Linked DNA regions of Homo sapiens. The protein of the gene in region 1 purifies or fractionates together with the protein of each later gene. This does not show direct contact. Each region holds a gene or a part of one and is shown in the gene's direction. Other genes may lie near its edges.

Evidence for each region.
Region 2: the proteins of CIROZ (region 1) and PADI3 purify together in Homo sapiens (affinity purification with mass spectrometry; one large-scale study listed by BioGRID and IntAct). This does not show direct contact.

The regions. Positions count from the first base shown.
Region 1 is NC_000001.11:10,978,315-10,983,734, reverse strand, and holds the start of CIROZ (ciliated left-right organizer ZP-N domains-containing protein isoform 1 precursor), read left to right. Parts: upstream 1-1,658; 5' UTR 1,659-1,697; coding exon 1,698-1,723; intron 1,724-5,420. UniProt on the Homo sapiens protein: Plays a role in left-right patterning process.
Region 2 is NC_000001.11:17,265,020-17,269,987, forward strand, and holds part of PADI3 (protein-arginine deiminase type-3), read left to right. Parts: intron 1-639; coding exon 640-701; intron 702-1,047; exon of another isoform or gene 1,048-1,277; intron 1,278-1,699; coding exon 1,700-1,817; intron 1,818-2,817; coding exon 2,818-2,943; intron 2,944-4,968. UniProt on the Homo sapiens protein: Catalyzes the deimination of arginine residues of proteins.

The DNA.
Region 1 (5,420 bases):
GTATTTGGGGCGGGGGGAGGAAGGGATAAACACAGATAAAATGGAATAGTTAAAATCAAGACTTTTTTTTTTTTTCACTTGCAAAGGGTATTAGGAACCATCTAGTCCTAAATCCTCATTTTGCAGGGATATTTGTTTGCAAGGGCTGCCACGACAGAGTACCACAGACTTGGGATTTACACACCAATTGATTTCTTCACAGTTCTAGAGGCTAGGAGTCTGAGATCAAGGTGCAGGCAGGGCTGGTTTCTCCGGAGCTGCCTCTCTGGCTCACAGCTGGCCATCTTCTCCCTGTGTCCTCACACCGTCATTCCTCCGTATGTGTCCGTGCCCTAATCTCCTCTTCCTTTTTTTTTTTTTTTTTGAGACGGAGTCTTATTGTATCGCCCAGGCTGGAGTGCAATGGCACGATCTCAGCTGTCTGCAATCTCTGCCTTCCAGGTTCAAGCGATTCTCCTGCCTCAGCCTCCAGAGTAGCTGGGATTACAGGTGCCCACCACCAAGCCCGGCTATTTTTTGTATTTTTGGTAGAGACAGGGTTTCACCATGTTGGCCAGGCTGGTCTCAAACTCCTGACCTGATGATCCACCCACCTCAGCCTCCCAAAGTGCTAGGATTACAGGCGTGAGTCACTGCGCCTGGTCTTTTTTTTTTTTTTTTTTTTTTTTTTTTTTTTTTTTTTTTTTTTTAGACGGAGTTTTGCTCTTGTCACCCAGGCTGCAGTACAATGGTACGATCTTGGCTCACTGCAACCTCCATCTCCCGGGTTCAAGCAATTCTCCTGCCTTAACTTCCCAAGTAGCTGGGATTACAGGCGTGCACCCCCACACCTGGCTAGTTTTGTATTTTTAGTAGAGATAAGGTTTCACCATGTTGGCCAGGCTGGTCTCGAAGTCCTGACATCAGGTGATCAGCCTGCCTCGCCCTCCCAAATCACTGGGATTATGGGCATGAGTGACTGTGCCCGGCCCCTTTTTTTTTTTTTTTTAGACAGGGTCTTGTTCTGTTGCCCAGGCTGGAGTGCAGTAGCACAATCAGGGCTCACTGCAGCCTCAACCTCCTGGGCTCAAGCAATCCTCTCACCTCAGCCTCCTGAGTAGCTAGGACCACAGGTGTGTGCCACCATGCCCAGCTAGTTTTTAAATTTTTTGTAGAGACAGGGTCTTGCCATGTTCCCCTGGCTTGTTTCGAACTCCTGACCTCAAACAATCTGCCCATCTCTGCATCCCAAAATGCTGGGGTTACAGGCATGAGCCACCATGCCTGGCCCCTCAGCTCCTTTTGAACTCTGCCAGGAGGGGCCTGGAGCAGGGTTCTGGGAAGCCCCATCAAGACAGCGTGACTGTTCCTCCGGTGAAGCTCAGTTTCTTAGCTTCTTTCCTTCCTTGGGCACAGAGACAGGCTTCTCCCGGGAGCGGAGAATGAGGGCCTGCACTCCAGCCTCAGTGGATCAATTCATCTTCAGCCTTCTGATCCGCAATCTTATTTTGAGCTCCCACGGCTGAAGCAATTCATCTCACCCATGCAGAGGGATGGGGAGAAGCTGAGAGTGTTGACACCCACCTGTGTTTTCTGGCACCTGAGTGACCCGAGACCTGCACTGGAGGGGAAGGGGAGGAGCCAACCTTTCGTTTAGTTGCTTGGAACTGCTTCAGATTAAATTCTCCCAGGGCAGGAGAGAGCTGCTGGGCCTGAGGATGTGGGGGTCCCCAGCACTTGCCTGGTAAGTGTCCCTTATTCAGGAATTGGGAGAAGCCAGTGGCATGCTTAGTGTGCCCACACTCCTTGAAGAAGCCAAATATCTTCCATCAGAATCAGAAGCCTTGCATCTAAGAGGGAAGGGGGCCAAATGGGTGAGGGGCCCAGATGCATGGATGCCTTGGGAAGGGCTGACTTTCTCAGGTGAGGTCCGGCCACAGTCTCTCCCACCTTTCTCATGCTCCTGTCATCCCTTGTTCTGGAATTCCAGTCCTCCCATCTTGGGAAGGATTTCCAGAAGATTGGGAGAAAACAGAACACGTCTTCCTTGTCCTAGAGGGTCCTTAAAACAAAACAAATTAGGGGTCAAGTTGACCAAGAGATGCTTGATTTCAAGGAGTTTTCAAATGATAGGAGTTGTGGTCGCTAGCTATTCGATTGTAAGGATTAGGAGAAAATTTCATTTTCCTTCCTTCCCTCCCTTCCTTCCTTCCCTCCCTGCCTTCCTTCCTTTCTCCTTCCTTCCTTCCCTTTCCTTTCTTTTCTCTTTCTCTCTCTCTCTCCCTCTCTGTCTCTCCTTCTTCCTGAGATAGAGTCTTGCTCTGTTGCCCAGGCTGGAGTGCAGTGGCAAGATCATAGTTCACTGTCATCTCTTAACTCCTGGGCTCAAGTGATCATCCCACTTTAGCCTCCTGAGTAGCTGGGACCATAGGCATGTGCCACCACACTTTGGTAATTTTTTAATTTTTTTGTAGAGACAGGGTCTTACTGTGTTGCCCAGGCTGGTCTTAAACTCCTGGGTTCAAGCCATCCTCCTGTCTCGGCCTCCCAAAGTATTGGGATTACGGGCATGACTCACTGCACTTGGCCAAAATCTCATTTTCCTTGGCAACAGAATTGCTACCTCTTTTCCCCATCTGAGATGCATTTTTAAGAGATACTTTAAAAAGCTCCTGAGAGTGGGAAGTGAAGCCTCCCAGGCCAGCTGGAATGTCACAATAGCTGGCTTGTGGCCTTTGGGCCGTGGACTGCAGGGCTTTTGTTGGGCGTTTTGTGAGGTTGAAGTCTGTAGACAATGAAGGCAGTGGAGAAGCTGAGTGGGGCTTTGTGGGGCTGGGCGAGCAAGGGGGAGGTCCGGGCCCTGTCCTGGGGACCCATTGCCTTCTCCTGGATGCCCCATGAGGGGGCTCAGCTTTGGGGGATGGAGCATCATGTCTCCCCCCAGACTGGGATGGGGCAGTTCTGGGTCTGAGAAGTGAGGGGGAAAAACCCAAACCCACATCTTTCTCCCGATTGATGCTCAAGGAGGAGAACAGGAGCAGGCATCAGACGGAGGGGAGAGCTGTCTACCCCCCACCTGCCACCGGGCCGATTCCAGACAGCATTCCCTGTGTAACAGCAGAGTCGGGGTCCCTGGCAAGGCCGGGACTCAGCACCAGAGTCAGCCACTTTCCTTTTCCCCAAGATTATTCTTCTGGTCCTGTCTCAGATTTACTCGCTCTGGGAGAACCTTCCTTCAAGACCAATTGCCCCAGCCAGGTTTTTGTTTTGCAAATTAATCAACTAATAATAGCGCCTCCCCGCTGCTGGGAGAGGAATTCCGCATTGGGCTCAGTGTCCAGGCAGCAGAGCCCAGGGCGGGTACCCGGCCGTCCATGGGAGAGGCTCGCCACAGGCGCTTCTGAATTCAGCGAATGAAGCGGGGCAGCGGGGCAGCCAGGCAGCCGCAAGCTCCTCCCAGCTCAAAGGCTGCAGGCTCAGCTTAGATTCCAGGCTGGGGAACCAGTCCTGTCATTCTTTGCCAACCCACTCTGGGGAGACTGTGGGCCCTGGCATTTGGCCTCCCTGGGCTGGGCCTGAGGCCCTGGCCCTCTGCCCACCCAGGAATCGAATGGCTCAACGAGGGCAGCCCTAGAAGGAAATGCAGCACCCATTCCTGCCTTTTCACATTGCTTTTTAAACTGTTAACTTTCTTTCTTTCTTTTTTTTGAGACGGAGTTTTGCTCTTGTTGCCCAGGCTGGAGCGCAATGGTGAGATCTCGGCTCACCACAACCTCCACCTCCCAGGTTCAAGCGATTTTCCTGCCTCAGCCTCCTGAGTAGCTGGGATTACAGGCATGCGCCACCGCACCTGGCTAATTTCGTATTTTTAGTAGAGATAGGGTTTCACCATGTTGGCTAGGCTGCTCTCAAACCCCTGACCTCAAGTGATCCGCCCGCCTCCGCTTCCCAAAGTGCTGGGATTACAGGCGTGAGCCACTGCACCCGTCCAATAGTAGTTTCTTTCTTTTCATTGCAGTTCAGTATTCCATTGTAGGAGTAGACCACAATGGGTCCATTCTACCACTGCTGGGCGCTGGGGTGGTTTCCAGGTTACAGGAAATAATAGCACTGCTGTCAACAGTCTTGCACGTGTCCTCTGATGCCCTTGTGCTTGCCTTGCAGTTGGAGAGGAAGCGCTGGGTCGAAGGGTGGAGGAATGTTCAGTCTTAGTAGATTCTACCAGTTCCCAAGAGTGGTTGAACCAACCTCACTCCCGCCAGGAGGCAGGAGCTTTCTCAATGCTCCACATTCTGCCAATCTCTCCCTGTCATTCTTTCTTTCCAGCTTCTGGCTTCAGGATTATTTCCTGAACTCCTCTAAGGAAAGCTTCTTTGTGGGAAGTTTAGGTTCTTGCCTGCAGTCATTTTAAATAGTTGGAGTCTCAGCTGCCCGAAGAGTCTTTTAAAATGTGAGATCCTTGCCCTGGGTGCGGTGGCCCACACCTGTAATCCCAGCATTTTGAGAGGCTGAGGTGGGCGAATAACTTGAAGCCAGGAGCTCAAGACCAGCCATGGCCAACATGGTGAAACCCCCGACTCTACTAAAAATACAAAAATTAGCCAGGCGTGGTGGCACACGCCTGTAATCCTAGCTACTCAGGAGGCTGAGGCACGAGAATCACTTAAATCTGAGAAGCAGAGATTGCAGTGAGCCGAGACTGTGCCACTGCACTCCAGCCTGGGTGACAGAGTGAGATACTCAGTCTCAAAAAAGAAAAAAAAAGTGAGATCCTCTTCCTTCCCTGCTTAGAGTTCTCCAGGGCTTCCCACAATTTTTTATGGTAAAACCCCAGCCTGCACCCCTGGCCATGGCTCCTGCCTGCCCCTCTCCTTTTTGCCCACCAGCGGCCCCTCTGTCACTGGCTCTAGTTCCACTGACCTTCTTTTGAGTCCTTAAACACAAACACACCAAACTCATTTCCGACTGTTTGCTGTGCACTGACTATTTCCTCTGCTGAGGAATGCCCTTCCCCAGGTCTTTGCATGGGACTCTTTCTTTTTTTTTGAGACAGGGTCTCGCTTTGTTACCCAGGCTGGAGTGCAGTGGGACAATCATTGCTCATTGCAACCTAGACCTCCCAGGCTCAAGCAATCCTCCCACCTCAGCCTCCTGAGTAGCTGGGACCACAAGCGCATGCCACCACACCAGGTTAATTTTAAAATCTTTTTGTAGACATCGAGTCTTGCTATTTTGCCCAGGCTGGTCTCAAACTCCTGGGCTCAAGTGATCCTCCTGCCTCAGTCTCCCAAAGTGTTGGGATTATAGGCATAAGCCACCATGCCCAGCGGGACTCCGTGACATACATACCATCTTGGTTCAACTGTCACCTCTCAGTGATGTTTTACCTGACATAAAGAAATTTGGGGGCTCGGTGCAGTGGCTCACGCCTGTAATCCCAG
Region 2 (4,968 bases), 6.3 Mb from region 1:
AAAAATCCTATCTAATGTATTCTTTCTTCTCTCCCTCCCTGCCCCTCACTGCTTCTTCTTTAAGAACTAAGAAGACTGCTTTTTTTTCAGAGCAGAAAGATTGATTCTGACCTCCTGAATGCTCCATTTGCATTATGAAATCTCACCCAGTGTCTAGGGCTAAATGTTAAGAAGGTGGGATGGGGGTGGGATTTGGGGACTGCGAGTAGCTCAGAAAGGACACACAGCCAGGAGGCGGCAGAACCTGGGTTTGTGTTCACATCTGTTTGACACCAAAGTCCAGGCTTGCTACCCCATTCCAAGGAGATGAGGCAGCTTTATATAGACAAGAATGTTCCTGGAGACCTGGGCTCAGTTCAGGGCATGCCTGGGACTGCAAGGGCTGCAGGGATGCAGATAGGAAGTGGTCAGGGAAGTCTCCCTAGAGGGGGCAGCATTTGTCCTGGGCCTTTGCTGTGACCCTGCTTCTTGCCTCAGGCCTCTTTCCCCAGCCCAGAGGGTGCAGATGCCCTCACCTCTTGGATGGTGTCTCCTTAGAAATGACTTGCCTTTGCTCAGCCCCAGACAAGCCCTGAGATCAAGGCCTGCCCTGGGCTCCTGGGAACCTTGTAGTGACTTACCCTCTGCCTCCTCTTGCAGACATCTCTCTGGATTGCGACCTGAACTGTGAGGGAAGGCAGGACAGGAACTTTGTAGACAAGGTAAGCATCTCTGCCTGGGCCCAGGAAGCAGGAGTGCAGTTGGAGCTTGCTCTAGGTTGGGTTAAGAAGGATGAGGCCATTACAGATATCCCCCTGCCTCCCAGCTGATGCCGAGACCAAGGGCCAAAAACAGAAACCAGGCATGGCTGGGGATCTTCTTTCACCAGGAGAAAAATCATCGCCAGGAATTATCAGGCATGGAGGTACCCAGCCCTGAGCTAGGCCTTGGTTTGTGGGATCAAGACCTTCTGGACTCATAAACTAGGTCAGGAGTGGGCAAACTTTTTCCGTGAAAAGTCACATAGCAAGTATTTTAGGCTTTGTGGGACATATGGTCTCAATTCTGCCACTATAGTGTGAAAGCAGCCACAGTTAATACAGAAATGGATGGATGTGACTGTGTGCTAATAAAACTTTATTTATACAAACAGGCAGTAGGCCAGATTTGGCCCACAGTTCATAATGTGCTGATCCTGACCTAGGCGAGAAGAGAAACCAAATATGAAACTGTTGAAGAACTTGGGACTGAATTATGTTGGAACTTGGTGCCCTGGGAGTTAAGAGGAGAAGGTCGAGGTGGGCTGGGTGGGTGAGGAAGGCTTCCTGGAGGGACGTACCCTTGAGCTGAGCTCTGAAGGGGTGCAGGAGGGAGGACGTTCCAGGTGCAGGGAATGGCAGGAGCAAAACCAAGGAGGGTTTAATGGAGGAATGAGCACAGAGTGAGGCGTGTGGTCCTATAATCAGGTTGCCTATTGAGAAAGAGGATGTTGGCTGAAGGCCCATCACAGATAGCCATGAAAGACAGCTCTGTGCTTTGGACTGGATGGTGTGGGCAACAGAGAGCCATTGCCATTGACATGTCTTGAGAAGGAGGTGCTTCGAGAACGTGGACCTAGCCTCACAGGGTTGGGTGGTTACAGGCCAGGCTCGGGTTCCTGGGTAGGGAGGCACAGGTCTCATCTGAGCCCTCATCACTGGCTATGTTTTGTCATTGGCAGCGGCAGTGGGTCTGGGGGCCCAGTGGGTATGGCGGCATCTTGCTGGTGAACTGTGACCGTGATGATCCGAGCTGTGATGTCCAGGACAATTGTGACCAGCACGTGCACTGCCTGCAAGGTGAGGCCGGGGCAGCCTGAGTCCCTGGGTGTCCAGGGTCACTGCTCAGTTACCCCATGGGAGTTCCAACCCACAGGCGAGACTCTGAGGCCAGAGTCCAGGGGAGAGCGCCAGCCTCCAGACACACCTCGATGCTCCTCAAAACCCATCTCAGGCTGGCAGCTGCCCCTCCCTAGTGTCTCTAGGGCCAGTGAGCACTCACATGCCAGGGCAGAAGCTCTGGAAATGAGCCACCTCGCCATTCTCTTCCTCCAGGGGAGCAGAGGATGCTAGCATTATTTGAGCACCTACTGTGTGCCAGGCCTTTTCCCCAAATTCTCATTGAATCATCCAAGTGGGACAATATCATCACCCCAATTTAGAGATGAGGATGCTGAGACTCAGAAGCCAGGAGACTCCCTGAAGACTGTGTCTGATCTGGGGCCTCCCCTCTCAACCCCAAATCTGGGCCTCCTCCTTCAGCACCTCTGGCCTACATTTCTGTGACTCCCCCACCTCTTGCTAAGTCCATCTGTCCTGAATTCCAGCCCCATGGAGAATGAGCTGCAATATTCCAGGGTATGCTAGGTGCTGTCCACGGGAGATGCCCACGGTTGCCTTCTGAAGTGGGCACCATTGGACATGGGGATGCTGGGGCTCCAGAAGGGAGGGGCTTGTCCAGGGTCACAGGGAGTGATGCTGGGATGGAGGCCAGAACCCTTACCTGCACGACGCCCACATGGCCTTACCCTCCTTGCTTCTCTGGAGCACCTGTTGTGTGTCAGACACCAGCTGGCTATGCCACACTTCATGTTTCTCTGGGCAATTGAGGAAACATGAGTCCAGGAGAGCATAGATGTCTTCATGGTTTGTTCTTGATGGCTTCCAGGGTTTTCACAAAGCTAGGGCTGGGAGACCCAGGTCTTGATACCCACTGACCTGGGGAGGGAGCTGGGCAGCAGAGGAAGGGGCCAGGGGCCAGGACTCCCTTGAGTCACTACCACTCTGTCTGGCTTCACAGACCTGGAAGACATGTCTGTCATGGTCCTGCGGACGCAGGGCCCTGCAGCCCTCTTTGATGACCACAAACTTGTCCTCCATACCTCCAGCTATGATGCCAAACGGGCACAGGTCTTCCACATCTGCGGTGAGTTTGTGCCACTGCCCCTTGCCATCTGTGCCCTGTTGCCAGGTTGCCTACCAGGGAACCTCCTGTTCCTGCCTTGGGCCATGGGCAGGTCCTGCTTACACTCCGGGAGATGCCCTGGTGGGTGGCGGGTCGCAGTAAGAACAGTCAGAAGTGGGGGCTTTGGAACTGATGAACTGGTGCCCCCAGCACAACACCTGGCCTGAGGTCATTTTATTTGATGAATGACCTTTTCAAATACATTTTAAGCATGTGTAGAAATTCTTATCAAAAATTTCAAACATACACAAAAAGCAGTGCTGTGAATCCCCATGTGCCTGTCACTCAGATTAAACAATTATCACTGTTTTGTCTGTCTCGCTGAAGTTTTGTAAAACCAACCCCAAACACCATAGATTTCACCCAATTAATTCAGTTTGTATTCCCCCCAAATATAGATGGCTGTTGTTTTACATAGTCTGCCAAAATCACAAGAAATACAAGTAAAAATCTAAATGCCTTTGAGAAACTAAAAATGTATACAAGTAATAAGATGCTTTTTTTTTTTTTTTTTTTTTTTTTTTGAGACAGAGTCTCGCTCTGTTGCTCAGGCTGGAGTACAGTGGCGTGACCTCGGGTCACTGCAACCTCCACCTCCTGGGTTCTGGCGATTCTCCTGCCTCAGCCTCCCAAGTAGCTGTGACTGCAGGCATGTGCCACCACACCCAGCTAATTTTTTGTATTTTTAGTAGAGACAGGGTTTCATTGTCTTAGCCAGGATGGTCTCAATCTCCTGACCTTGTGATCTGCCCGCCTCGGCCTCCCAAAGTGCTGGGATTATAGGCGTGAGCCACCGTGCCTGGCCGCTTATTTTTTAAATAATCAGACAATATGGAAGTATAGAAAATGAAACCTGAGAGTTCTCTACCCGTCTCTAAATCTGACTTTTTTTTTTTTTTTTTGAGTCAAGGTCTTGCTCTGTTGCCCGGGCTGGAGTGCAGTGGCATGATCTCAGCTCACTGCAGCCTCCACCTTTCAGGCTCAAGCAATCCTTCCACCTTAGCCTCACGAGTAGCTGGGACTACAGGCATGTACCACCACACCCTGCTAATTTTTTTTTTTTTGTAAAGACAGGGTTTCACCATGCTGCCCAGGCTGGTCGTGAACTCCTGGGCTCAAGCAATCCACCCGCTTTGGCCTCTCAAAGTACTAGGATTATAGGCGTGAGACGCCGCACCTGGCCTGAATCTGATTGTCACTGTTAACGAGTTGGGATGTGTGCTTCCCAACTTTATTCTACATGTTCTCCAGCGTGTGTCCATATGCTGCTTTCCAACCGGCTTCTTTCATTAAGTAATAATCCCACACACCTTTTCTGGTATTTATTGAGCTCTACTTCATTCTTTTCCACTGCTGTATAATATTCCTAAGCATAGAGGTGCTGTGACTTACACAGTTCTCTGAACATCATAGTGGTTTGCAGTGTTTTGATTTTATAACAATGCAGGTTGCTTGAGGTCAGGGGCTTTGTTCAAGTCCAGAACCGTGCCCCATGGGTGCACTGTAGTTGCACAGTAAATATTTGATGAATTAATGAATATCGAGCACTCTTGTACAGAAATATTATGTGACTTTGTACCTATTATTGTTTGTTTGTTGTTGTTGTTTTGTTTTTTGTTGGTTTTGGTTTTTTTTGAGATGGATTCTCGCTCCATGCCCAGGCTGGAGTGCAGTGGTGTGATCTTGGCTCACTGCAACCTCCGCCTCCTGGGTTCAAGCAATCCTCCTGCCTAAGCCTCCTGAGTAGCTGGGATTATAGGTGTGCACCACCACCGCCCGGCTAATTTTTGTATTTTTAGTAGAGACAGGGTTTCACTATGTTAGCCAGGCTGGTCTTGAACTCCTAACTTCAGGTGATCCACCGCCTTCGGTCTCCCAAAGTGCTGTGATTACAGACATGAGCCACCGTGCCCAGCCTGTAGATGTATTTTTGTAGGAAAGATACCTAGCAGTGGAATTGCTGGGCTTGGGGTAAACATTACTTTG